7 linked regions of the Homo sapiens genome follow. The protein of the gene in region 1 purifies or fractionates together with the protein of each later gene. This does not show direct contact. Each region holds a gene or a part of one and is shown in the gene's direction. Other genes may lie near its edges. The genes, in order: TAL1, RBM25, IARS1, ETS1, SSBP1, SATB1 and SPTBN1.

The links.
Region 2: the proteins of TAL1 (region 1) and RBM25 purify together in Homo sapiens (affinity purification with mass spectrometry; one large-scale study listed by BioGRID and IntAct). This does not show direct contact.
Region 3: the proteins of TAL1 (region 1) and IARS1 purify together in Homo sapiens (affinity purification with mass spectrometry; one large-scale study listed by BioGRID and IntAct). This does not show direct contact.
Region 4: the proteins of TAL1 (region 1) and ETS1 purify together in Homo sapiens (co-immunoprecipitation; one study listed by IntAct). This does not show direct contact.
Region 5: the proteins of TAL1 (region 1) and SSBP1 purify together in Homo sapiens (affinity purification with mass spectrometry, with the first as the bait; one study listed by BioGRID). This does not show direct contact.
Region 6: the proteins of TAL1 (region 1) and SATB1 purify together in Homo sapiens (affinity purification with western blotting; one study listed by BioGRID). This does not show direct contact.
Region 7: the proteins of TAL1 (region 1) and SPTBN1 purify together in Homo sapiens (affinity purification with mass spectrometry; one large-scale study listed by BioGRID and IntAct). This does not show direct contact.

What each region holds. Positions count from the first base shown.
Region 1 is NC_000001.11:47,222,085-47,226,276, reverse strand, and holds part of TAL1 (T-cell acute lymphocytic leukemia protein 1), read left to right. Parts: intron 1-387; 5' UTR 388-388; coding exon 389-834; coding exon of another isoform or gene 835-1,011; intron 1,012-2,178; coding exon 2,179-2,273; intron 2,274-4,192. UniProt on the Homo sapiens protein: Implicated in the genesis of hemopoietic malignancies. It may play an important role in hemopoietic differentiation. Serves as a positive regulator of erythroid differentiation.
Region 2 is NC_000014.9:73,096,009-73,100,200, forward strand, and holds part of RBM25 (RNA-binding protein 25), read left to right. Parts: intron 1-906; coding exon 907-1,092; intron 1,093-3,371; coding exon 3,372-3,425; intron 3,426-3,658; coding exon 3,659-3,742; intron 3,743-4,192. UniProt on the Homo sapiens protein: RNA-binding protein that acts as a regulator of alternative pre-mRNA splicing. Involved in apoptotic cell death through the regulation of the apoptotic factor BCL2L1 isoform expression.
Region 3 is NC_000009.12:92,245,068-92,249,259, reverse strand, and holds part of IARS1 (isoleucine--tRNA ligase, cytoplasmic), read left to right. Parts: intron 1-1,708; coding exon 1,709-1,883; intron 1,884-4,188; coding exon 4,189-4,192. UniProt on the Homo sapiens protein: Catalyzes the specific attachment of an amino acid to its cognate tRNA in a 2 step reaction: the amino acid (AA) is first activated by ATP to form AA-AMP and then transferred to the acceptor end of the tRNA.
Region 4 is NC_000011.10:128,580,564-128,584,755, reverse strand, and holds part of ETS1 (protein C-ets-1), read left to right. Parts: exon of another isoform or gene 1-1,759; intron 1,760-4,192. UniProt on the Homo sapiens protein: Transcription factor. Directly controls the expression of cytokine and chemokine genes in a wide variety of different cellular contexts. May control the differentiation, survival and proliferation of lymphoid cells.
Region 5 is NC_000007.14:141,748,074-141,751,396, forward strand, and holds the end of SSBP1 (single-stranded DNA-binding protein, mitochondrial precursor), read left to right. Parts: intron 1-2,237; coding exon 2,238-2,281; 3' UTR 2,282-2,415; downstream 2,416-3,323.
Region 6 is NC_000003.12:18,397,402-18,401,593, reverse strand, and holds part of SATB1 (DNA-binding protein SATB1), read left to right. Parts: intron 1-4,192. UniProt on the Homo sapiens protein: Crucial silencing factor contributing to the initiation of X inactivation mediated by Xist RNA that occurs during embryogenesis and in lymphoma.
Region 7 is NC_000002.12:54,459,027-54,463,218, forward strand, and holds part of SPTBN1 (spectrin beta chain, non-erythrocytic 1), read left to right. Parts: intron 1-311; exon of another isoform or gene 312-382; intron 383-4,192. UniProt on the Homo sapiens protein: Fodrin, which seems to be involved in secretion, interacts with calmodulin in a calcium-dependent manner and is thus candidate for the calcium-dependent movement of the cytoskeleton at the membrane.

The sequences.
Region 1 (4,192 bases):
TGAGAAAGGGGACAGAGTAATCTCTTTCTTGCCTCCTTGTACATTTCCTTCCTCCTGATTTCCCCTTCTGTGTTTCTGTCGCTGGCTGTATTCCTTTTCTTCCGGTGTCTCTGTCGTCTTCCTCCATCTCTGTCCTTTTGGCCCTCAGTCTCTGTGTCTCCCAGGCACCCCTCCCTTCTCCCAATCCAGAGACCCTCTTTCCCTCCCACCCTAGCCCCAACCGGCCTCCCGCCCTAGCCCCACGTGGCGCTAACTTTGTCTGCCTCTTCTCACGTCTCGGTGCGTGAGTTCCTCTCTCTGCCCTTCTCCCCTTTACCCCAGCCCACGTCGGTGGGTCAGGGGCGGTCGTCAGAGCGGGCATCCGCTTGTCTGTCTGTCTGCCCACAGGATGACCGAGCGGCCGCCGAGCGAGGCGGCTCGCAGTGACCCCCAGCTAGAGGGACGGGACGCGGCCGAGGCCAGCATGGCCCCCCCGCACCTGGTCCTGCTGAACGGCGTCGCCAAGGAGACGAGCCGCGCGGCCGCAGCGGAGCCCCCAGTCATCGAACTGGGCGCGCGCGGAGGCCCGGGGGGCGGCCCTGCCGGTGGGGGCGGCGCCGCGAGAGACTTAAAGGGCCGCGACGCGGCGACGGCCGAAGCGCGCCATCGGGTGCCCACCACCGAGCTGTGCAGACCTCCCGGGCCCGCCCCGGCCCCCGCGCCCGCCTCGGTTACAGCGGAGCTGCCCGGCGACGGCCGCATGGTGCAGCTGAGTCCTCCCGCGCTGGCTGCCCCCGCCGCCCCCGGCCGCGCGCTGCTCTACAGCCTCAGCCAGCCGCTGGCCTCTCTCGGCAGGTCAGGGGCCAGGGGCCAGGGGCCAGGGGCTGGGCGGGTGGGCAGGGCGACCACCCCCACCGGGGTTTCCTTCTACACATCGGCGGCGGCCTGCCCTGGGGGCCGAGCGGGTGGAGCGCAGGGAGAGGAGGTCGTTTTAAACCCAGTGGCTCTAGAGCCTCAAGCTGGAGCCCCCGAGTGAGTGCCAGTGAGGGAGGGGCCTTCTGTGAGAGAGAGTGTGCGTGTGGCTGCGGGGTGCATGGCTGTGTGGAAGCCGAGAGGAGGACGTGGACACCTTCGCGGGTGCAGGCATGTGGCTGGTGTGCTTGGTGGTGGTGTCGTGGGGGACGGAGAGGAAGGAGTCCCCTGAGCGTGGGTACCAGGAAAGAGTGTGCCTGCATGTGCTTTGCTGTGAGCAGAGGTAGATGTTTGTGGTGTGAAATTCATTCGGAAACTCAGCGCTAGCTGGACAGGCAAGAGATAAGGATCTGAGGGTGGTGGCAGAGGCACCCTCCCCCGAATCTCTGCTGGAGGGCCCGCCTGAGGACTGACCTGTCCCTCCACTCCCAGCCCCTCTGCTCCTAGCCGTGGTCTCTGGCCCCAGCCTGTACTCCGGTTGGTGTCAGGGCATCCGTTTCCCTGCTGGCGCTACTGTGATGATGAGGGAGAGAAGCCATAGGGTTGGAATAGAAACCGGCAGATGGGGCAGGGATAGAGTGTGGGGCAGTCAATGAACCTGGCGGGCACCCGAGACAGAGCTATGGGGAGCTTAGGGTGGGTGAGGGCAGAGAGCTAGGCGGAGCATTTCAGCTGAGGGGAGTCAGGGTTTCCTGTCTGTTGTGTATCTACAGCCCCTTATGGGTGGGGTGAGGTGGGGAGAGGGGACAGTGTGCCCCTTTGTGGTGACCAAGATGCACACCATCAGGTGTGAAGGTTACATTTGCCTGAGTGGGCATGTGTTTGGGAGTGGAGGTGTGTGTGGATTATGTGCTTGTTTCTGGGGCGGGAGAATGGAGAGTGTTTCTATCTGTGAAGTGTGTGTGTGTGTGTGTGTGTGTGTTCATTTTTGTGTTTATTCCATGTGTTATTCACCTCTGCTTCTGCATATGTGCCTGTGTTTGTGTGGAGGGATGTGTGGTTAGGTGTCTTTTCCTCCCTTTGCTTGTTTTATGACAGACAGAGTGAGGGCATTCCGTGTGTATGTGTGTGTGTGTGTCTGTGTGTGCCTATTCCCAGCTCAAGTGTGAAGGGACCAGGGTTGCCCAGAGGTGGGGGGCTCAAGACATGTGGGGAGGATCCCTAAGGAAGCTCTTTCTCCCCTCCCCTCAACATGGGATCTTGTGATCTGCCCGTTCCCTCCCACAGCGGGTTCTTTGGGGAGCCGGATGCCTTCCCTATGTTCACCACCAACAATCGAGTGAAGAGGAGACCTTCCCCCTATGAGATGGAGATTACTGATGGTGAGTCTGCCCCACCCCACCGTTGTACCTGCCCCTCACGCTGGTTAGAGCCCTCTGGAGGAGGGAACATCTGGGACTACTCCGTAGGTATCTCACAAAGATGGGCGGGCCACTTTCCAAACCCAAACTGCCGAAGCCCTTCACCCTGCAGCTGAGCTAGGGCTAAGTAAAGTCCTGGATGGGGCTAGCAGGACCACACTCACAGTCCTGCAAAGAGGAGGCATGGGAGAGAGACACATAATGGCGCTTAGCCCAAACCTCTGGAGTTAGTTCCCAAACCTTTGGAGTTAGTTCCAGTCCCCAGTCCGGGCTCCATTCCTACACTTTGGCAAGGATCCCAAGTGGGCGCAGAATCACACAGTGTCCCCCGATCCCCCATTCTAGGCACTGACCCTCAGGGATTCCCTGCACTTCCTCCCAAGTCTTCCTTAGAGTCTGGAGTCTGCTTCCTCCCTGCAATGGAGTCATCAAGGGTTTTCTCCGAGGTCCCTACACAGTAGGCTCCCCTTGTCTCCCGTTAACACATTCTGGGCTTAGACCTGGAGTTCCCTTCCTGACATCATGGATTCTACCTTGCCCCCTGGATTCCCCGAGAAGGGCCTTGGCACTGCTCCTTTGAGGTACTTGAATATTCCCTGAACTTGCAGGGGTGGTTTGGACAAATGGGAGATTTGGAAGACCCTCGCCATCTTTCCAAGGTTGACCTTGTATAGTAGATTGGTCCCAGCACCAGGGGTAGGAGAGCAGGCACTTCAGAGCTGAGGGACTTTGAGCCAGACCCAGATGCCCCCAGAACTTCAGCTTGGCTGTGGCCTGGGGCTCCTGTAGGAAGGCTGCCCAAGGCCTCAGAGCAAGGCTGGGATTTATGCTCCAAACTGGTGGGAGGAATATGAGTATGGAGCTGGAGCCTCTGGAGTGGAGCCCTCTGTGGTGTTCTGGAGAGGAGCGGGGCTGGGATCTGCACAACAGAAAAGACTTCAAAAGACCCAAGCAGCCTGGGGCACAGGTGTGCAGGGCTGAGAGGCAGGGGTGCCTTCTGCTAGATTAGAGAGGAGTTCTCTAGTCTAAGAGAGGTGGGTGTACCAAACAGGAAGAAGACAGGACCAGCCCTGAAGTTCCCCAGGGATGAGGCATTTTCTACAATAGGCAGAAGAGGCAGAGCATAGGGGCGAGGGTTTGTGGGGTGTGCAGGAGTGTAGGGCAGTCATTATCCATAAGTGTTGGCAATATTTACCGAGCACCTACTCAGTGCTGGCCAGAGAGAGGCAGAGGACACCAGGAGGGGTAGACAGACTCAGGAAAGAGGAAGGTGAGGAGAGGGGGTGGTTCTCTGGAATAAAACCAGAGAGGAATAGGCAGACATGTAGGCGAAGGGTAGGGTATGAGTGTGCAGGATGTGTCTAGGGGACACTGAAATTAGAGATTGAACCCAAAAAGAGTCCATAGAAGTAGAACTAATGCAAGATCTAGAGTTAGGACTTGATGTGGATTCCTGTTGCTGAATTGCTACTACCATGTATTGGACACCTACTATGTGCCATGGACTATGTGTGCTTGATTTCTGTTTATTCCTTACCACAAGCTCATGAGGGCAATATTATTGTTTACATCTCACAGATAAGGAAATTGAGGCTGAGAGAGGTTACCCAGCTTGATCAAGGTCACACAGCTAAGTCCTGGGTCACACAGCTAAGTCCTGGACCACCCTCATAACACTGGTCTTAAGCTTTGGAATAAGTCCTGACCACTTCCCCACCATCTCCCCTTCTGGATGTAGTCTAGCTCCAGCTGTGACAGCAGTCATAAGTACCCCCTCCCCAACTAGGAGCTCCCTCAAGATCACCAGCATTAGCCATGGTGGAGGGACTGTCCTCCCTATGTCACTGCTGAGGGATGCTCTCTGTCTGGCCTGGAGGCCT
Region 2 (4,192 bases), on another chromosome or scaffold:
GCTCTTTTGCCCAGGCTGGAGTGCAGTGGCGTAATCTCTGCTCACTGCAACCACTGCCTTCCGGTTTTAAGCGATTCTCCTGCCTCAGCCTCCCGAGGAGCTGGAATTATAGGCATGCACCACCGCACTCGGCTAATTTTTGTATTTTTAGTAGAGTGGGGTTTCACCATGTTGGCCAGGCTGGTCTTGAACTCCTGACCTCATGATCCGCCCCCGCCTCGGCCTCCCATAGTGCTGGGATTACAGGAGTGAGCCACTGCGCCTGGCCAGAAAATTATTGATAAAGACCTACAAATACTTACTTTGATTCCTTGTTAGGGTTGTAAGTGTATGGTTTCTATAAGTGGTATGTATTCCTGCATTATAAGCACTCGTAGAAAGCAAATAGGAAATAAGCCATCATTACAGCCCCTAAACTCCCGATTCTTGCAGTTTGGTATATTTAGCAATCTGATGTTTTTGTTTGTTTGTTTAATCTACATACAATTTTGCTTTTTCTGAGTGGTAGCTATCACAATTAACTTAAAATTGTATTTTGCCTTTACTACGTAACTGAATTTTCAACTGTTTAAAAGAGTCGTTACTATTTGTGTACCTATTGAGCAAAACAGTCTGAAAACTTGTGAATGGTTTGCAGATGTGTCGTATAGTGTGCTAGTCCTGAAATTTAGGGACCAGAATTTTTTAGCTATTAAGAAAAAGAAAATGAAAATGAAGTAGTATCTCAGGAATAGTTAAATAAAAAAATGAAGCTTTTCTGATGTTAAGAACAAAACCAATTCTGTGTTTAATAGGACTACAGAGATGTTTTTGAGAAAACATGTATGTTTATTAACTCTTGTTGTAGAGTGATTTTGATTTTCTTGCTTGATTTTTCTTTCCCCTGAATTTGCTGTTTTGTTTAAGAATGCAAGGCCAGAAACTGTCACTAATGACGATGAAGAAGCCTTGGATGAAGAAACAAAGAGGAGAGATCAGATGATTAAAGGGGCTATTGAAGTTTTAATTCGTGAATACTCCAGTGAGCTAAATGCCCCCTCACAGGAATCTGATTCTCACCCCAGGAAGAAGAAGAAGGAAAAGAAGGAGGACGTATGTGTTCTGACAACAACATATCATTTCTACCGTTTGTTTTTTATGATATCACTCTTATACTTTGATTACATGTCAGTTTTCTTTTTTCTTTTCTTTTTTTTTTTTTTTTTTTTTTGAGATGGAGGCTCACTTTGTCTCCCAGGCTGGAATGCAGTGGTGCAATCTCAGTTCACTGTAACCTCCGCCTCCGGGGTTCGAGCGATTCTACTGCCTCAGCCTCCTGAGTAGCTGGGACTACAGGCATCCGCCACCATGCCCGGCTAATTTTTTGGTTTTTAGTAGAGACGGGGTTTCACCGTGTTAGCCAGGATGGTCTCAATCTCGTGACCTCGTGGTCGACCCGCCTCGGCCTCCCACAGTGCTGGGATTACAGGCGTGAGCCACCGTGCCCGGCCACATTTTAAACTTTTTTACAGAGACAAGGTCTCACTATGTTTTCTAGGCTGGTCTCCAACTCCTGGGTTCAGGTTATCCTCCTGCCTCCGCTTCCTAAAGTGCCAGGATTACAGTCATGAGCCACTGCGCCCGGCCCCTATTTTACTTTGTTTGCCTATGGTTGTTCTGTCTCTGTTCTAAGCAAGAAACCAGATCTGATTCACTGAAGATTTCCACCCACTCTTAATTTTTAGCTGCCTTTCCTTAAGAAACTATGTCACATTCCCCTCCCTGAACAATAATGGTATTGAATAATCAAACTGGAGGATTCTGAAAGAGCAGTACAACTTGAAACATTCCTCCTCAGTGAATTGATTGCTACCTCTTTGTGGCCCTAAGCTAATTGTCCAGGTTGAAAGAAAAGGTTTAGTTTTCTCATACTTATTTCCTTTGGATAAACTTAGATAAATTATAGGAAGTGTTCTTTTAAAAATACTGGAAGAAGCCAGAAGTGGTGGCTGACACATGTAGTCCCAGCAACTTGGGAGGCTGAGGGGAGAATTACTTGAGCCCATGAACTTGAGTCTAGCCTGGGCCACAGAGCGAGACCCTTCTATAAAGTAAGAAAAAAAATCCCACAAATATTGGAAGTGTTTTATTTATGTTTTTGAGACAGTATCTTGCTCTGTCACACAGACTGGAGGATGGTGGCGCAATTACGGCTCACTGCAGCCTTGAATACCCATCCTAAAGTGATCCTCATGTGTTAGCCTCCTGAGAAGCTGAGACTATAGGCATGTGCTACCATACCCAGCTAATTTTTGTATTTTTTGTAGAGACAGGGTTTCACCATGTTGCCCAAGCTGGTGTTGAACTCCTGAGCTCAAATGATCTGCCTGCCTCAGCCTTCCAAAGTGCTGGGACTACAAGTGTGAATCACTCATAGCTGGCTCAACGTGTTTTATATGCATGCATTATGTAATAAAAAAGTACTACGTGGTATATATATTATGATTAGTTATGAATGGATGGTTACATTTTATATTATTTTAAATTTCAGTGCCTTTTTAGGCCATATTCAGTTTTCTTTGTGGCCAGATACATACATTTTTATTATTTGGTATGTGTTTCCTCGTTTGGTCATAGAACTTTTCTTTTTTGTTCCCGCCCCTACCCCCACCCAAGACGGAGTCTCACTCACTTGCCCAGGCTGGAGTGCAGCAGCTGCGATCTCAGCTCACTGCAAGCTCTGCCTCCCGGGTTCAAGCGATTCTCCTGCCTCAGCCTCCTGAGTAGCTGGGACTACACGTGCCTGCTGCCACGCCCAGCTACTTTTTTGTATTTTTAATAGAGATGGGTTTCACTGTGTTAGCCAGGATGGTCTCGATCTGCTGACCTCGTGATCCGCGTGAGCCACCGTGCCCGACCCATAACTTTTCTAAGGAGGTGTATTCTGTTAGGAATGGTAATTGGTAGGGTCAGTAAGGTACAGGGTAATTGAGGCCTGTAGAATTCATTCTTCCTCTTTCTTCATTAGTGGGAAAGGAGAAAAATAACATATTTGTTTGATGTGGATTGGGAGGAGATAATAAATTCTTCCTCTGTGGCAGGAGTTATGGGTAAATATTGTTGGTATGATTAGAAAGCCCTGCTACTATGAGAGCACCTTCTATATTTCCATTTCTTGGGGGTGTTGGAGTATCCAGAGAGGAGGGTAGTGTGTGATCAGTTATTGTAAAAAGAGTGAAATCACTTCTATTCCCAAGTAATTTGAAATCAAGAAAGCATCACAGAAGTGTACTGTATTGTTCACGTCATAAATGTATAGGGCATTGCTTTGCAGATTAGTATGAGCTCTGTTTTTCTTTTTTAAAAAAGATTCTTGGTGGATTTTTTCACAGATTTTCCGCAGATTTCCAGTGGCCCCACTGATCCCTTATCCACTCATCACTAAGGTTAGTTTAAATTGTAGGCTTTGACAATACCTGTGTTTACTGCTGATTGTTGATTTGTCATTCTTGTCTATCTGATTTTTCACTATTTAACTTTAGATTGTTAGATTTGTTATTGTGGATATTCTGTTTACTTATTTACTCTTTGAGACCTATACAGAATATCTAACCTTTAACTGTTTATATTGAAGTAGGGTGTTCTTTATTCATTCCCTCCTGTGCCCGTTTTCTTTTAGGAGGATATAAATGCTATAGAAATGGAAGAAGACAAAAGAGACCTGATATCTCGAGAGATCAGCAAATTCAGAGACACACATAAGGTAGTATTCTTGTCTTTTCACTTGATACCAATCTAGACTTTTTACAGAATCCAAAGCAAAGAGACAAAAAAAATCAACCTTAAATTAGAATATAATTTTAAATGTTTTTTATAGGTTTAATTGATATTTAGATAGAAAAAAGAAACAGAAGACCAATACCATATTAAAGTGGTCCTTGACATGTTGTGCTTAGTTTTTTCAGTTACTGACTATTCTGCAGTCATCTCACTTTAATATGAATAGAAGCTAATTTTATTTTTAGATTTCAACATAAACATCAAGGTCAGACTTAAATTAGATTCAGGGGGCAGCAGGATAACATACACTGTAGTGTATTTCTGGGGGCAGTTATTTAACTTGATCTTAGGAATACCTTTTCTTTAGAGCTGAGATTAAAATTTACATTTTATATTTGTATAGATTTAAGTTGAGTGGGGGAGATTTTAAACA
Region 3 (4,192 bases), on another chromosome or scaffold:
CTTTTTGATAACTACCAAAGAAACTTTGTTCCTCCAAATTATGCAAGTGACAAGTACCCTCGCATGTAAAAAGTCGAAGCAATAGCATAGGGAGCCTCTCTCCACCCCATTTCTCCCTGGAGTCTCACTTCCTGGCTGCTTCATAATTTATTTAATTACTGTCCCGTTGTTTGACATTTAGGTTTCTGATTACAAACAAAAGCTTTGTGTGTACATATATGCATATATCAGTGTATGGATATTGGATAGATTCCAGAAGTGGAGTTTTGGGGTCAAAGTTTATAGTGTCAGTTGTCTTCCTAAACATTTTTATTCCATGATATTTTAAAACATCTTTATTCCATGATGTTTTAAAAACGCATATGTTTTACCTCATCTTCTTTGTGATGATAGAAAACAAATATTTTTTAAAATTTCATTGTTTATTCTTTTCACAGGTGATATTTAAAATCATTATTATAGAAAATGTTAATTTCTATATTTGGTTTTCAGTTGCTTGAAAGTTGCAGAGAAATATTAGAAACCAAAAGTTAGATTTTAAATTCTGACATTAGTACCTGTGGCTATGCATAAAATAGAAATTTTTTTTTTTTTTTTTTTTTTTTTTGTGACAGGGTCTCGCTCTGTCACCCAGGCTGGAGTGCAGTGATGTGATCTTGGCTCACTACAGCCTCCATCTCCTGGGCTCGGGCAATCCTCCCACCTCAGCCTCCCAAGTGGCGGAGATTAGGCATAGTAGTACAGGCTTTTGTAGAGATGGGGTTTTGCCATGTTGCCCGGGCTGGTCTCTAACTCCTGAGCTCAAGTGATCCTCCCACCTCGATCTCCCGAAGTGCTAAGATTACAAGTTTGCGCCACCACACCCAGCTGAAAAATTTTGAAATTAACTACTTCACTTAAAATGAGATTAATTAATGTAGCTAAATATAATGGCAAAACTAAACATTCCGTATTATTTGCTTCAAGCTGTTCTCATTTTCCCATCCGCTACTGTGCCATCACCATCCCTGCCGCATCAGTAATCCTCAGTAGCATGACTGAAGCATGAAGTGTTCTGTTTAACTGATCTTCTGCTTAGTTAATAGTTAACCTTGTGGTACTCTGCAATTGCTTGCACAAAGGTTACCTCTGAGGGATGAGGTTTATATTTCTGGGTCTGGAGTCCTTTTTCTGTTATGCTCAACTGTCTTGATAGATCTTCATAACAAGCATTTTCTTCTTACCATACAAATCACTGGTTTTTAAGCATATTTATAGAATGGTACAACTATCACCATAGTTTTAGAACATTTTCCTCGTCCCAGAAAGAAAGCCAGTATTCATTAACATTCACAAACCATTTTCCCCTCAATATCTGACCATTTCCTGGCATCCACGAACCTATTTGCTATCTCTGGATTTGCCTTCTCTGGACATTTCATATAAGTGGAATCATACAATTTGTAATCTTTATGTCTGGCGTGTTTCACCTAGCATAATGTTTCACATTAATTTATGTTGTAGCACATATGAGTGCTTCAGTCCTTCATATTGCCAAATACTCTATTGCATGTGTATGCTGCATTTTGTTTATCCATTCACAGTTGATGGACACTTGAAGTGTTCTTGCTTTCTGGCAGTTAGGAATAATGCTGCTGTGGACCTACATTTTTGTGTGAACATATGTTTTCATTTCTCATTTTTGTTTCCTCTTGTGCATTAACTGTAGGAACTCAATGTTCGAAAAGTTACACTGTCTACAGATAAAAACAAGTATGGCATTCGGCTAAGGGCAGAACCAGATCACATGGTCCTGGGGAAGCGTCTGAAGGGAGCCTTTAAGGCAGTGATGACGTCCATCAAGCAGTTGAGCAGTGAGGAGCTGGAGCAGTTCCAGAAGACTGGTAGGTGTCTACACAGACAAGGGCACCATTTATGTCCTGAGTCTGAGGGATACTTTTTAGGCTACTGTTTGACTTTTAATATCACATCCTTTCCTTTCCTGTCCTGTCGTGTCCCGTCGTGTCCTGTCCTTTCCTTTCCTTTCCTTACTCTCTTCTCTTTTCTCTCTTCTCTCTTCTCTTTTCTTGACAGAATCTCGCTCTGTCATCCATCCTGGAGCACAGTGGCGCGATCTTGGCTCACTGCAACCTCTGCCTCCCAGGTTCAAGTGATTCTCCTGCCTCAGCCTCCCAAGTAGCTGGGATTACAGGCACGTAGTACCATGCCTGGCTAATTTTTGTATTTTTGGTAGAAACAGGGTTTCACCATGTTGGCCAGGCTGGTCTCTAACTCCTGACCTCAGGTGATCCACCCGCCTTCGGTCCCCCAAATTGCTGGGATTACAGGTGTGTGCCACTGCACCGGTCCATCCTTTTCTTAAGTAAAACTTTTTTTCCTGTTGATAAAAATGTTTATTATAAATAATTCTTACAGTTTAGAAAGAAAATAGCTGGGCACAGAGGCTCACATCTGTAATCCCAGCGGCTCACATCTGTAATCCCAGCATTTTGGGAGGCCCAGTTGGATAGATCACTTGAGATCACTACAGGCACATACTACCACACTTAGCCAGATGTGGTGGTATGTGCCTGCCATCCCAGTTACTCTGGAGGCTGAGGTGGGAGGATCCCTGGAGCCTAGGGTGATTTTGTCCTTACTTTCATGGTGCTTGCTGACATTGAAGATTTGGGAAAATAATTATGGTTTTGATAAGTGTTATAAAGGGAAGGTGTAGGGTAACATAAAAACATGTGGGGGTACCTAACCAAATGATGGGATTAGGAAAGGGAAATCAGCCCCATCTTGCTACCCCTATACAGAGCATTTCAGGGTGCCCAGAAATTTGCAGCTCTGCCATGATTAGAATCATACATGGTCTGAGTGTGGCTGTCTGACATCCTGTAACTATCCTGGGGCACAAGCTGTTTATTGTTACGGCTTCCTCTGAAGTTGAAAATCATAAGCTAGGAGATGTCTTGAGAAGAGAGATTTGAGGATTCATAAATCAGATGGGGGAACTGTCCCTAAGATTCTCCAAATATTTAGATAGAATTAATAAAACATAAGACATCAGCAGCTAAACCTCAAGTTATTACTAATTACTAATCAACTCAAAATATTAAAATAACAAAGTGTTACGAGCCTTCAAGCCACAAATCTAAATTGTTCGCCAGATAGCCAAAGCATCAAAAATTCCTGAGATGGCTGGGGGTGGTGACTCATGCCTGTAATCCCAGCACTTTGGGAGGCCGAGGCGGGCAGATCACGAAATCAGGAGATTGAGACTGTCCTGGCTAACACGGTGAAACCCCGTCTCTGCTAAAAACACACACACACACACAAAATTAGCCAGGTGTGGTGGCAGGCGCCTGTAGTTCCAGCTACTCAGGAGACTGAGGCCGGGGAATGGCGTGAACCCAGGAGGCAGAGCTTGCAGTGAGCCGAGATCCTGCCACTGCACTGCAGCCTGGGTGACAAAGCAAGACTCTGTCTCAAAAAAAAAAAAAAAATTCCTGGGCTAAACCTTATTTGAAATTGAAAGCCTAGTTTCTGAGCGTACTGTTCTGCACTGATGGAAAACAAGATCATCTTCAGAACACAGAGACAAAGTAAACATAAAAATGACACCCGGGTGCTCAGAGCCCAAGAAGGTCATCATCAGTGACAACAGTGGGCCTCCCTATCAGCGGGGGTGTTAACATCAGCAGCTGTTCACATTTCTGCCTCCCCTGAACAGGCATGATGCTCAGTACTACACACTGCCCGTCTCATTTTAGCCTCACCACACCTTGCTCAGCAGGTAGCAGAACACCATGTCATACAACCAGCAAATAGTGGACCTAAGTTCACTTTCTCTTTAAAGACTGTATTTTCTTCATGACATCCTGCTGCTCTGTGTTTATGGTGAGCATTTGTTGCCTCTTGGTGCCTTCCCTTAGCTTTGTCATGTCTTTGGACCTGAGAGTTTATATAAAACAGTAGATACTGGTGATGACTTAACTGTCTTCAAGGTAGCATAGTGTAATCTAAAGAAAGTTTGTCATGTCTTGGCTACAACCATGACATGAGTCAGAGGGAAATGATCTCTTGAAGCCTCTGTGGCTTTGTTATTGTGAAATTTTAATCAAGAAGGGGCATAATACACGGGTAGTGGGGCAGCTTGAAGAGGAGGGGAAGCTGATTAACAGTGTAGCTGCTTCTCCATAGGGAC
Region 4 (4,192 bases), on another chromosome or scaffold:
TTAAGTTTCTTCAATCCTGGGAAAAATTAGATGTGAAGACATAACTTACTTTTTGCTTCCTCATCTCCTTTATCCCTGCTGTACTGAAAGTATAGCTTATTGAACTCCACCTTTTAATGTAGATGATTTTCTAGTTATCATATCCATTCTTCTTCATTTCACCTAAGGAGGAATACTCAGCCCTAACGTTTACTGAGCACTTGGTATGTTCCAACATCCTTGCTAGGTGCTTTGCAGGGACTGCTTCATTTAATCTACAATGAAGTTTTGAGGTGGGCACTCCACTCTCGTCATCCCCATTTACCAGGTGGGGACTCTGAGGCTCAGTCATATGACCGTGTTAACTCATGGTGGACCCTGATTAGAGCCAATGGAATGTGAACCCAGAGCTTGTGATTGGAACTGCATGTCATAGGAATCTAAGTAACTCTAAGACATTTACACAAATTTAGGATAGATTTTTCTGCTTAGACTGATTTGCTTATCTAGGAGAACACTGGATTAAGCCTGTTTTCTGAAGTGGTATCTGTGGATTACTTATTCATTGTTATGAAGATACTGACTTTGAAGAAAGACTACCCAGGCCTAGTTTCCTGGGTAAGTAAGTCAGTCCCTTCCCTGACAAATATCAGTTTTATTTCTACTCCATGCCCAGCCTTGTGCTGGAGACCATACCAAACACAGAAGAAACAATATGTAAACTCCATTTTTAAAATTAACACAATAATCTTTACTAGAAAAGAGGATAAAAATGAAAGACAATATAATTATTAAGTAGTGTAGTATAACCTATACATGCTTTGGGAGTTCAGGTAGAAAAAAATGGTATCTAGAGCAGTGAGGGAAGGATGTTTCTGATCTGCCTTTTTTTCAAAAGAGGATAGATTTCATATTCCAGTAATCAAGTGTTGGAGCTGCCTTCAGAACTTAGAGGGAACAGGCTGGGTAGTACTTACTAGCATGAGAGTAAGCAACAAACATTTAGTGCAAATGTCAGGAAAATATTCTCAATGGGGAGGAAAAAATATATAAATTTTCAAGAGATGTGGAAAGGTAGAAAACTCCAGAATTTTGGTCTTTTTAGAGATTTAAAAGAGATTTAGTCTTTTTAGAGACTTAAAAAAAACTTTTCACTTTGAAATAATTCCAGATGCATAAAAGTTTGCAAAACAATGTACAAAAAGTTTCCAAAACATGTGAGTCTTTTACAATTGTAAAAAAAAACATATAATGCAAATAACTCTTTTAAATTATCTCTTGGCACCTCTTGTAATCCTTAATCCAAATGACTTCTGTTGATGGGAGAAAGCACCATTGCCAGTTTCTTGATAAAAGGGACCAAATAACTAGAACCATGTCTTCTTAGGAAAAGCAAGAAGTCTTGGCAGATGTGCATCTGGCATATGGCTCCTGAGACACTGACAGGTCCTGAGCTACTCAATTCTCCCCAGCCGGGTTTGTATTGCACCTGAGGTTACCAGCATCTGCTCAGCCTTGGCACAGAAGTCTTGCCTGTTCCTCCTTGGGCTCTGCCTCCTAAACACCTACCTTGTTATAATCACTCATGAGTTCAACCAAGTTAGTCCAGCGCTGCCTTGCTACTCACAGTGAAGTCCTCTGACCTGCGGCATCAGCACCACGTGGGAGCTTGTTAGAAATGTGGAATGTCTGGCCAGACCTCAGACCTACTGCAGCAGACTGCATTGTAACAGGATCCCCGGGTGATTCATATGCACATTACAGTTTGGGAGGCACTGCTCTAAAGAAAAAGCAAAAACAAATGAAAAAGCAAAAATGAAAAAAATGAACAAACAAGAAATCTTGCACTATTTTCCGCAGTGCTTTACTACTTCCTTATATTTGTATCTAGTTGCTAAAGCGTAAGTCCACAAAAGATCGACATTATATCAAAAAGATGTTGGTTTAACTCAGGAAGCTGCAATATTTCACCATTTGTGCTATGCAATCTTTCAATGAGTTAGTTCTCCACTGTAAGAAAAATGCTTACTTCTTGGTTTTATGCATAACAATGGTACAAACAGACTACCATTAAACAGAAATTGTGGCTCTTTTCTCCTGCAAAATTCTTGACTAATGCTACTCAACCTATGATTATGAAAGGGAATCCTGTTTTCATGACTTGAATACAAGTCTTTAGAAAAAGAGATGAGAGATTTAGCTATCCATGTTCTAGCTCTAACACTTAAATAACCTCTGCCATGTTGGGCAGTAGAAAAAAGTAATTAATATAAAACAGTAGTGTTACTAATTAGTGACATTAGTAAGCATTTACTAATGCTTACTAATTGCCAGGCACTACTGATAAAATAGCAATAATAACAATTATTATTTATTGACCATTTTTACTATTTATACAGCATGCTGCTAAGTATTTGTGTTTTGTATGATCCTCCTCTATAATCCTGAAAGTGTTGATATTATTACCTGCATTTTATAGTTGAGGAAACTGATTGTGAGGTTAAGAAATTTGCTCATGGCCATACACGCAGCAAGCAGTTCTACGTTCACCCATAGTATGTAACTCCAGGGTTCTTGATCACTGCTAAACACGTAACCTCTTAGGACTCAGTTCATTGAAATAAATGAGAAGATTGATGAATTTTTTCCAACTCCAAAATTCACTGGAATTGCACAATCCCTCTTTATATAAGAATGCTAGCAAGCTGTTTAGCATTATACTGAGAAATTGGAACCTTACATTTCGGGTAATAAAACAAATGAAACTCCACCATGAAAATCACAATCAGACATAGTCCAAGAAGTTGCTTGCTGGATTTGAGAGATCTAAGGCAGCTGGTATCTTTTAGTTCAATTTTAAAGGGGCATTATTGCAACTATCCAGTCCCCTCTCATTGTTCTTGTAATATCTCTTTCTATTTATGGTGCCTCTCAGTTTTGTTGAGAATTCCTTTAGAGCCAGAGCCAAGTCTAAACTCTAGATTATGTCTGACATGCTTCACAGGCTAAGAGTCTGTAATGTAATTCTTTAAAATGCTAGTCTCTTCAGAGGTTTCATTGGCAGCATTCATTGGATTAGAGTTGACGTTTTTAATCTCGTGGCCCTTCTTTGCATTTGACTTGGAAAACAATCTCTTATTCCATGGCCTCTATTACGACCATTCTTGGAAAGCAAAGAGTACTCTACATTATTCCTCCAGCTTATTCTTTTTTTGTTTTGAGGTTCGAAGTAAAACACAATCCTTATTTATTTATTCAGTTATTTATGAGTACTTACCATGCTTCTGGCTCAGGAGTACATCCTAAGGCCAAGTGTGATCATTTGTTGAATTTCATGGTAAAATACAGGATTTGAGGCATAGCATTTGTACACAGGCTATGGCCACTTTTATGGTAAGGCAGTGTATTGAATATTACCTTTGATCTTCAGGAAGATGTTCTGACAGAAGTATGATTGACTAGAAAGTGTAGATTGTTAGTATTTCAAAGGTTTCAGAGACTAGAATTGGCATTTTCTTAGTTAGATTCCTAGACCTAAGAGTCGGCAGGTTTTAATGTATTTCCTTGATGCCTAGGAGAAGCAAGACCTTTCTGTCCATTGTTGACAATGCCATTTCAGTACTGTATGGTGAGGGATTTGTTTCCACTGAGAAGGAAATGCATAAAATAATCTATGAAGCATTCCTTATTTCTTAACTGCTATGGTATACCAGAGTAAAACATCTTCTAGTCTTTCTCTTTTTCAGGAGATAGTAGCGAGTTACTCCTCAAGGAAGGGTAAAACAATATACTCTTTAAAATTATAATGACATGAGTTCATTTTAATATTCTAAGAAGGATTCGTTGAGCTATGTCAATTCATACAGGACTTGAAAGTGTTATGCTTAATTAGGAGATGGGTTTATTTTTAGAGAAATAGGAGATGGATATGACTCATTTCCATTTAAGCAAGGGTTGGCGGAATAATTATAGTGAAGTTGTGAAGAAACAAAGACTGAGATGTTAATTGTACTGTGAGTTGCTGCTCTGTAACCTTAGTGAAAGAATAAATGCACTTAGCTTAAGACACAGAAGACAGTAGCCCATAATTTGGAACACAGCCTTCATTTGTCAGTGCTGGCTACTTAAAATAAGAAGGAATATTCACTACTACTGTAATGTTGGATTACTTAGTCAAGCAAATGAGGTTCTTGTAGATTTAGTAGTGAGACAG
Region 5 (3,323 bases), on another chromosome or scaffold:
AAAATGAACTCCTACCATTTCGCTTCAGTGTCAGCTGATGGACAGTGTTATATCCATGCCTCCAGCGACTTGACCTACACCTGGATTATTTTGAAACAGATTCTAGACATAAGTTTATTCATAAATTTCCATAGGGATCTCTAAAAGATAAGGTGTCTTTTTGAAAATGTAACTACCGTGCTATTATCACACCTAATATTAATAAATTACTGTTAATTTTTTTACTAAATATCGTAGTGTTCAAATTTCCTTGATAACTTCATAAACATTCATACATTATATTACATGATTTCTACCTTAAGTCTCTTAGATTTGCCTTTTATCTTTCTTCTTTCCTTTGCTCCAGAGTTCATGTCTTAACCACCATACCTTATTAATAATTTATAATTTGTATAGAATGCTCACATGGTTTCTTACTGCTAAGTTTCTTTGAAAGTGTATTAACCTTGAAAAGCAGTGTAGGTATTTTCCTACCCTCCTGTGGGTCCCAATATAAACCACAAGTGTGGGCAAACTTTAGATTGTTCGGATTATTGAGTTGTTACTAATAAGCCAAACGGAAGCATTTCAGATGATATGCTGTTTTGTTTTTTTTCCTTGTCACTAGGTTCCACTAGCACAGTCAGTTTACTTTAGGTTTATGTCTAATGGTAAAATTGAAGAGCTCTTCAGTGACATTTGAATTGAAGAAAATAGAGTTTATTGGTTGATCTGTTTTATTGGTGATTTTTTTTTCTCCTAGGGATCCTATCTGTAACTAAAAAACCACCACCAGTGGATGGCACTCTTGGCTTTTTCCACAGTGATATTAATTCGAGTAGTTTGTTCTGAAGTAACCGTTCTGGACCAAAACATTCTAGTTTTTGGAAGACTATGGTCATGAACAAATATTCAGTCCTTGGTGGATAATTTTATAGTTACAAGAATCTTTTGGAATTATAAAGGAAATGCAGTCATTCCTCCATGTCCCTTGTTTCTGCATCTGTGGATTCAACCAAGCACAGATTGAATATATGTGAAAAAAAGAAACCAATAAAAATAATACAACAACAACAAAAATACAAGTGAAACAATACAGTGTAACAGCTGTTAACATAGCATTTACCTTGTATTAGATATTGTAAGTAATCTAAAGATGATTTAAAGTATATAAGAGGAAGTACATAGGTTATATGTGATTACTATACCATTTTATATCAGGGACTTGAGCATTGTGGATTTTGGTATCTATAGGGGTCCTGGAACCAGTCCCCCAATGGATACTGAAGGATGACTACTACTTGCCTCTGTTCTTTTGTTTATTTTTAGCTAACTCCCTCTGGAACAGCATTTTAAGAGCAACGTCTGATATTTTTGGATAAAAATGCTAACTCTGTGATGTTGATTCATAAAATGTTCCCAAGAATTGGTATATTAAAATTATTCTGGGCCAGGTGCGGTGCTCATGCCTGTAATCCCAGCACTTTGGGAGGCCAAGGCGGGCAGATCACTTGAGGTCAGGAGTTCAAGACCAGCCTGGCCAACATGGTGAAACCCTGTCTCTATTAAAAATACAAAAGTTAGCCAGGCATGGTGGTGCACACCTATAATCCCAGCTACTGGAGAGGCTGAGGCAGGAGAATCGCTTGAACCCAGGAGGCAGAGGTTGCAGTAAGCTGAGATTGCACCACTTCACTCCAGCCTGGGTGACAGAGACTCCATCTCCAAAGGAAAAACAAAAAGTTATTCTGTATTGTAATTTAAAAATAAAATTTCTTCTATTTGAATTTTTAAAGTTAAAAACGTAAGTAAATCCTGTCATTGCTAACAGGGCCACATATGGACTCTTACTCTTTCCTCTAGACCCCCAGAGTGTAGAATGTGATACACTTTTGTCCTTTTCTCTGAGGATGTGCTGCCTAGTGTCGTGGAATCTGCCTGACCATTGCAAGCATCCAATTTTGTGACCAGTTCTTTTGCAGGAAATTGTTTCTGAGAAGACTGGAAGACAAGAAATATCCCACCTCTTCTAACAAGATCTGAATTGTTCGAAAAGCAGCCAGTGCCTAACTTGTAGCTCCACTTATGCCAACTGTATATATACCTCTCGTGAGCATAGCAAGTGATTTAATATTTTGAAAAGATGGCTAAAATCCTTTTAATGAACAGCACTAAAGTTATATGTATTAGAGGAGAATTATTGAATGAGATGGAGAAAGAGTTCTGAAATTAATATTTACATTTTGGCTTTTTTACAGATAATATTATATTTCTGAGTGACCAGACGAAAGAGAAGGAGTAGAAAGGATGATTCTTCTTTGGCCATCATTTGGTACAGTCTCATTTCCAAGTCATGTATAATCTTTATGGCTTCCAAGGACAAGAATTAAAATACTCTTTTACGTAAAATGAGTAATAATCTTTTTTCTGACTGTCGTTCTCGCTCTCCTTTTTGTGGTATAATCTTGGTAGCTACTATCTGTTATGGCATTTACTAGTTGTTTATTCTTCTAAGGGTGGTTTCTATGTACAGGTATACAAAATAGTAAACTTTCAGGCTCATTTGTGTTATGGCAAAGGGATAAATATGCTTTGGGAAGGTCTCCTGGTTTTTGTATACACTTTTATTACAATATTGATTTGTCCAATCAGTGAATTTACTGAGCATCACTGTATGTGAGACATTTATCCCATATTTGTAAATATTGATTTTCTTAACGTTTTGCTCTGTAGACATGAAGGCAAGGACTGAATCTTCTGTTTGCCTGCACTTTAAACCATGCTTTACATAGAATAGCCACTCAGTAAGCATTGATAGATGAATCATCCCAATGGGATTCTAAGCTTCAGCTCAAATTGAAGGGAGTTGCTGAGCAGTGGTTAGTGTCTAACCTAAACATCTTTAAGACTAACCTACCTTCTTCATATCTTTTGTTTTTGGACAGTTTCATTAGTAGCATTGATGAAACATAGTTTACCAGCAATAAGGACCTGAATAATTAGAGATGAAATCGTTCATCTCCAGGTGATGCCACAGGAGCTGTAGTTCTGTTCTTTCTCTGCCCCTGTTATCTGTGGGGAAAAGAAAGAGAGATCAGACTGTTACAGTGTCTATGTAGAAAGAAGTAGACATGAGAGACTCCATTTTGTTCTGTACTAAGAAAAATTCTTTTGCCTTGAGATGCTGTTAATCTGTAACCCTACCCCCAACCCTGTGCTCGTAGAAACAAGTGCTGTGTGCTGTGTCGACTCAAGGTTTAATGGATTTAGGGCTATGTAGGATGTGCTTTGTTAAACAAATGCTTGAAGGCAGAATGCTTGTTAAAAGTCATCACCACTCCTTA
Region 6 (4,192 bases), on another chromosome or scaffold:
TTATTTTATTCTGTGAACATTGATGTTTTATACAGACCAGCCACTGAATAGGAAACTTGCCATACAAGTTGTGTCTTTTTCAAAGTGCTTTGGATAGCTTATATAAATAGACACTGAGAGAGAACTGGAATAACATAACCACCGAGCACTGCAACTTCCGAGACATCTGTGTGGATGTATTTTGAAAAACCTGGGAAGGGATCTCTTGCAAATTAATGAACAAAGGTTCTTGAAACTATGATTTCTATCACGACAGCCAAAGCGATGGATTTGAAAGATTCGTGTCATAGTTAAGCTGCTATTATGTTTGACCTTTAAGGGGAAAAAAGGGGAAGAGGATTTCTGGTGGCTTGTTTCAGTGACCCTTTTTATTGATCACCTAGTCTGTGTCCAGCCCTCTGATGAGTCCAGGATATATTCAGATGAGACCTAAGGCCCACAGTCCAGTGCAAAATAAACAGCAGGATGAGTGCTCTGCTGCAGGAGGTTTGGGAAGTTAGGAAAGGCCTCATGGAAGCAAGGATGCCCAGGCTGTATCCTGAAGGATGAGCAGCTGTTAGCTAGAGATGGGAGAGGGCATGGGCCGTGCATCCAAGCCAGAGGAGTGGTGTGCCTTCTTGATGCTTTCTACCAGATATAGGCCAGCTTCAGAAAACACCACCAAATTGGAGTATGAGAAGGAAAGAAATATTTCCCCGTGGTGTTTTCCTTTACTATTCCTTGTACCAACTTGTAACTTAATAATTTAATCAGTATACTTCATTCTACATTAAAAAGACTCAAAATACTGTATATCATTTGAAAATTTTATCTGATACTCAAAACATAGTCACCTGATATGAAATGTGATCATATAATGAAAGCCCAGTGATGAGGAGGAGGCAAAGGATTGTCATAGTAATTAATATCTCTTCAGTCTATATGTAATATGTTACAGGCTCTGTGCTAATTGTATCACATCTATTATTTCCTGTCCAAGGGCAGATAATATGTCTCTTCAAGTCATTATTTTCCTAGTGACTTGCCCAGTGCTTGGCACATAGTAGAATTTAAGTATATGCTAAATGAATTTTAAAAATGCCTGAATTGATGGATTCTCAGAACAACTCCATGAGGTGTATGCTATTATCATTCCCATTTAGCATAGGAAATTGTGATGGAATGGTCAACTATTTGACCCAAGGTCATACTACCAGTGTGTGACACATCCTCACTTGAATATATGTTTATTTCTATTCTGTTTTGTCAGATGAACATTTAGTGTTTATATTAATGCATGCCAGGCATTGAGCTAGAAAATAATATGGTGCCCCAGACCTACGTGAACTCACAGCTTAGTGCAATCTTTTTAAACCAGTACCTCCTTTTAAGTGACACAAGAATCCCAAGCCTTTCTAACATGGAACTTGGCCTACTATCTGTACATCCCACCACCTAGGAAAATTTTACCAATCATGACTTTTTTATTTGTGTTATCAAAACATTACGTGTTTTTTTCCTGATATTCTAAATTTAAGATTACACTACTGTATATGATTTTTCAAATGCCATGTGCACCACAAAATTCTGCAGTCTCTTTCCTGCCATTGAAACCGGCTGGCTGGTCTACTCCAATGCTATGCCTAAGCCTTTAGTAGGAATTTTACCACCTGAAACACACACACACGCCCACGCCCACACACATACACCTCATGAAGTGGCTATAGGAGCAATCTAATTGGACAGATTATTGCATATTGTCCAATAAAAATAGACATGACTCCAAGTTACCTGAATTAGGAAATATTTCCCAGTCACCCAAAAGCACAAAAAGATAGGGAATCCAAAAAGTTGCTTTGTCATGCATTATAAGTTACGGATTAGCCTTTTGATTTAAGTCTTGCTTAGGCTATTATTTACATTAATCAGAGTTTCCTAAGCATACACCATGTGACAGAAAAGCACTTAAGCCCAGAACCTACCAATTTAGGGTTAAGTAGGGTAGGGGGAAGCTTTGACAATGATGCACATATGGATATTATTTTCCATGTACGAATAATAATAAACTGTATAGCACTATTACATATAGGTTCTAGTTTTATAAAACTATTTCAGACATTTTTTCACACACACCATGGATGATTCTTCCTTCCGTCGTCCCCTATACATTTTCCACTGTTGATATACCAAATCACATTAAATTGAGATGATCTATTTACATATCTGTGTTCTTAATAGATAGTAAACTTCTTGTAGGCAGAGGCTGTCCGCCATCTTTGGATGACAGGTGCCTCATCTTTGTAGGCAGAGGCTGTCTGCCATCTTTGCATCCTTACTACCAGCCAGGCATATAGTAGGTGTGCAGCAAAGAGCAAATTTCATATATAGAACTGTTGGCAAACTGGAGTAGACTGGATGTTTGTCAAAAACCTCGGCAAAATTTGGATATTCCATACACTTCTAAAAAGTAAGACATAAACCACATCTAGAACTCATGTGTATTATTAACATTTAAGGAACTGCCAGAATGTCTAGATAAAGAGTAATAATTTTTTTAAAAATTGGACCAGAGTGGAAGAACATCAACTGTCATCCATTTGCAGAAGAATCACCATTATCCATCAGCGATCTCAATAGTTTTTATTAGTGTCTGACTTTATTGATCCCTTATTACAAGAGAGTAAGTGAGATTGAAGCTGACAGATCAGGTAATCTTCTGGCTCTGGTTTTGGCAACTTTGCTAAGTGTCTTTTTACACTGTGGACTGTGGGAGGCTCTTAGTGAAATTGCAAGCTATTGGATTAATGGCAGAGCATCATGAACACATTAAGAATGTCTTTTTAGAGATATAAAATGTGAAAATGACTATAGAGAGTGTCAAAAAAAAAGATATCACAGTGCCTCTTAGGAAAGATAGCTGTGTTTTACATAAATAATGCGACTCCAGCTTATCCTTCACTGGAAGTTCTTTAGAGATCCCCCAAATTTACATATTCCAGAAATGTGTGCATGCTACAGAATTAACACTGATAGTGGATGTCAGGAGAATGAATAATAACTGAAAGAGCTTTACATTAGAGGTAACTTAAAGAAGATAATTATATAAAAATACTTTTGTCCCCAAACTGGCTTTTCTGGTTGTTCACTGCCTCCTGAACAATGCTGCCTTCTATAAATTATTTCACCATAGACCAACTGATGTCTGAAATGTGAGTTCTCATGTTTCTGCACATAGGGGTGAGGGATAGATTGGTGCTACAAAATCTTACTCCTAAGACTCGGTAGGAAATTAAGTTAGCTGTTACTAGAGAATATGGGTAACAGGTTAATATGGACCATGAATTTAGTCATTGAAATTACCGTAACCAAAATTTGCTGGGAAGATTGAAAATGATTTAAAAAAAGAAACCCTCCTAGTGATTCATTAAAATCATGTTTTTCTTCATTTTTGTATGTTAAAGGGCTGACAGTTTTCCGGGCATTTATTAAAAGCAGGATAAAGATAAGTCACGATAGGTCATCTTTTTGTGGTATCCTTGAGAAATTTAGAAGCATGAAATGTATAAATTTAAAATTTTTATGATCGGTTTGAAATTCAAAACTTAAGCTTTACTATTGATGAAGCCAGTAATAAGATTGCAGAATGTTTTTCTCTTGATAGAGGATCTCTGTGAATAGTTTGTTTCTTCTCAAATACGGTCAGTTAACCTTTGATCAGTGTTAATGCGCGTCCACTTTAAATCCAAATAATAGAGTGGAAAGTGCAAGTTCTGTTTCTCAAATTTTAATATACATGTGAATCCCCTGGGATCTTGGTAAAATTCAGCTGCTAAGTGCACTGGTCTGGGGTAGGGCCCAAGATTCTGCATTTCTAACAAGCTTCCAAGTGATGCCCATATTGCTGGTCCCTGGTCTATACTTTGAGTAGAAAAGATGTAGAGTCCAGTCAAAAAATCGCGAAGTCTCGTATATTTATGAGTCACAATTATAAAGTCATCTTCATGTATTTGGATTTATTGGGACCAGTGAGTTTGACAGCCTAGTAATAGATGGCATTGATGGAGATTCAATGAATGCTAGAGCAAAGTCTGTGGGTTTGATAGCTTTATACTGGTCTCAGTGGGCTGTTGCTTTCTACTTAAATAAGCATTTGATGATCTACTTAATGAATATTAAGAAGTCGAAGCTTTAGGCTAAAGTGTGAAACCAAAAT
Region 7 (4,192 bases), on another chromosome or scaffold:
ACAGATTTTTATGAATGTTGTTCCCATGGATCATCCAAACGTTTTGGATTTACTTTGTTGTAAGAAATATCCTGTGTTGATGTCACAGGAGGTTTAGCTGTTCTGACTTACACAGCAGGTGCAGAATTCTGTTGGGTTAAGCTCTTTGTAACTCTGTCATTACTGGAGTGACCAAAACCTTCATCTGAGAGGAGAAGTATTGGGCAGTGAAGGAACTGCTGTCACTAGGTCGTCTCCCACAGTTGAGGTTTTCTGTGAAGAACTTCTCTTGGGCAAGACTAGTAACAACTATCTGTGATGTTGCAGAGCAAATGAGAAGACCTCCCTCTACTTGTGACACATCCTGAGCAGAGGCTTGGCATTGGCAGAGTTTCCTGGAAGGGTTTGTAGAGTGGTTGCTTTGTCTTGATGTTTGAATGTATGACTTTACATGTGGAAGTACTATTTTGACGTGGAAGGATTTTACTACTGCTAACATAGACATGATTAGTGGAAATCATTCAGTGTGGATTTTGTCGAAATAATTTTAAGCTTTTCTTTTTAATAGCATATTCTTATAGAACATTTTAAAGCCTAATTTTTTTTACGTGCAATGACATGATGCTCCTTTAATTATGTTGCATCGTAACTAGTATCTTCATTATAATTGGGCTTTATTTAATGGCAGCCGTAGTTTCTTTCACTACATTATTGGAAATGCAAACCATTCTTCCAGAAGGAAGGGGCTAACTACCCCTGTTAGAAGAGTGAACTTTGTAGGTCTGTGGAAGTGAGTAAAGCATCTCATGGGTTTTTCTTGTAAATTTTCAGTCTTTGCTTTTTCTCAGGGCATCTTTTCTTTGCAAAAGACCTAGTTTAGTACTCTGATTTTTCCGGTAGCACTTGTAATTATATTTAAATTTTTATTGTGTGGGAATAACATCATCTATTTTTTTCTACTCAGTGGTTAAAGGAAATTACACCAATTAGATATACCTGTGTTTCTATTTTTAAACATCTCTGGAGAAGGCATTTTCATAATGTCCTTTGCTATCATAGTGAGGTTCACGGACCTTCAACATTAGAATCGCCTGGAAGCTTGTTGCAAATGCAGATTCTTAGGCCCCACTCTGAACTCAGCCAATCGGAATCAACATTTTAACAAGACCTTTAAGTGAGTTGTATGCACATTAAATGAAGAAACTCTATTCTGTTCCTTCAGCAAAGGGACCTCAATATCAAAAGTTTCCTTCTTGAATTTTCCTTTCTTTTGCTGAAGTATCAGCACATTTTTTTCCTTGATGGTGGTGACAAAAGTGAGGCTCTCACTGTAAATTATTTGTTTAATACAAAATTATTTTATAAAGCTGTTCTTTAATTCTTGGTGGAAGAGTCCTATATACCATGGTTTATTTAGATTAATCAGTGTTTTAGGTTGTTTTGTAAAACACCTCTAAAGTTGAAAAACAGTCTTTTTCCCCTCTGGAAGAAAAAGGCATTGGTTTTGAGACATCAGAGCTGGAGCCTCGGAAGCTAACCCCTGAGCAAAGGGTCCTCTCTGCTCCCTCTGCTCTGGCATCTTGATGTCTGTCATCTGATATAGTCAATGTCCTGCCCTCTCGTCCAGTCTTTTCTTAGAGTTCTTTTTTGAATCAACTAATTGGTAGGTACAAAATAATGTTCCTAAAATATATGTTAAAGAATCGTAAACCAGCTGGGTGCAGTGGCTCACGCCTGTAATCCCAGCACTTTGGGATGCCGAGTGGGGGCGGATCACTTGAGGTCAGGAGTTCAAGACCAGCCTGGCCAACATGGTGAAACCCCATCTCTACTAAAAATACAAAAATTATCTGGGCATGGTGGCAGGCATCTGTAATTCCCAGCTACTCGGGAGGCTGAGGCAACAGAATCAGTTGAACTGGGGAGGCAGAGGTTGCAGTGAGCCGAGATCGCGCCACTGCATTCCAACCTGGGTGACAAGAGCGAGACTCTGTCTCAAAAAAATAAAAATCATAAACCAAGGGACACTCAGGCAGCCACCGGCTAGTTCAGGAAGAGCCTTATACATTCAGAGCCCACCTCCATCATCCCATCTGAAACAACCCATATCCTTGATTTTGTGCATATCATTCCCTTCTCTATGGTTTATCCTTTTTAAAAAATCTTGATTGTGTATGATTTTGAACTTTATATCAACAAAATTATACTTTATGTATTCTTCTGACTCACATATTTAGATTAAGATTCTATTCCCAAGGTTTATCCATTTCATGGCTGTATTTCATTCAGTTTCACCTGCTGTATAGTATTCTAACGTGATTTATTTATTCATTGTACTCTAGATGGAGATTTGGATTGATTCCAGGTTTTTTTGCTATTGTGAAAGGGTTGCTGTGAGTGGTTTTTGTACACGGCTCTTGGTACATATGTGGAGGCACACACACCCATTTGCTGTCTCTAGGGAATGAAATTTTCTGGCTCACAGGGCATATGCATCATCAGCCTTAGTAGAGAATGTAGAACTGTTTTTTACAAAGCGATTATGTTGATCGTGTTCCCACTAGCCATAAGTGTTACAGTTCCAAAGCCTTGCCAGTGCTTCACATACCAGGCTTGAAAATCTTGTCCAGTGAAACATTATCTCACTGTGATTTTTATTTACAATTTCTCTGATTATTGAGTTTGAATGTCTGTTTACATTATTAACCATTTGGGTTCTTCGTTTTGTGAAGTACCTGTTCAGTCTTTTACCCATTTATCTTATTAATTTGTAGTTCTGTATGTAGATTACTACTAATCCTTTGTGGATTACATGTCTTGCGACAATTACTTCTCAGCTTGTGTTTTTTTTCTTAACTCGAATTTGTGATTTCTTTTGATGATCGGTTATTTGTAATTTAGCAGAGTCATAATCAGTATTTTGTCCTTTAAAGTTTGTGAGGGTAATTTTCTTATTTCAGAAAAGTTTTTCTTTGTTTGGAAAGAGCATTCGTTTTGGAGTCAAACAGGTTGTGGGCCCAAATCCTAATGGTGTTGTATACTAGCCTTATGGCTACCACTAGGTACTGGCCTTGAGCTAGTTAGTTACTCAAGACCACAGTTTCCTCATTGGAAAAATCAAAATAATATTAGTTTCTCTTAGTTATGATACAGCAGTGTACAGTTCCAGGCACATAGTACGTATTTAGTTGATAACAGTTGTTTCCTTTCTGTTGGGACTGCCTAAGCACTATGACCCACTGATCCCTTTTGGTATGCTTTGCAAAAACTACCTAAACCTTTTTATGTCAGGAGAGCTATTAAATGGCTTATTCTAACTTTTGTATTTTAAAAGGCTGCATTACCAATGGCATTTATATATTGATTAATACAGTCTGAAGAGACCACTTACTAGAAACCCTTATCAGTTTAGGTTCTGGTTCTTGAAAGTAATGTAATTACATTTATTTGTACACAGTTCTTTTGACCATTAAGCATTTATAGTATTAATGATCTTCCTTTACTGCTACTCTGAGATTACTTTGTAATATTGTTTTTTATTTAATGAATAATTATTGGATACATTATCTTGCCAGGACTTGAAGTTGTTATGGTTTTGTGGACTGGCTTAAAGTTGAATAAGAATTAGTTCCTGAATGAAAGGACTGTATACTCTAGTATATGGAATATATTTTATGTACTATACACAGAAGGTAAAATACCTTTAACAGGCTGGATGTGTGACTTTGGCAAACCTTTAACCCTCCGGTCTCAGATCTAATTTTATAAAATGGAAGACTTAGATGAAATCATAGTGGGGGTTAAAACATGGCACATGCCATCACTCGCTTCTGTTCCTGGCAGACATCGAAAATCAGTAATGGTACTCTTTTTCCACTGAGCTGAGATAGTCTCAGTCATATTCTCGACATGGTGTTCTAGGCAGTAACTACCACTCGATTAAATCTGGCATTCAGTTTTTAAGCTCCTGTACACTTCTAAATTCTGTGATTATAAGATACTTGAGAAACTCATCACCTTGGCAGTGTTCAGAATACAGTGAGACTGGAAGAAACTAGAAGCAAGGAGACAGGAGAGAGGTGACTGGGGGTCCAGAAGTAAAGGGAGCAAGTTACAGTGGTGGCCAAGGGAACAAGGAGAGGAGAGATGGGAAAATGGTTGTGAAGGCCCAATCCTATGCGAAGCTATTTGTAGGGTAAATGGATGGCAGGAT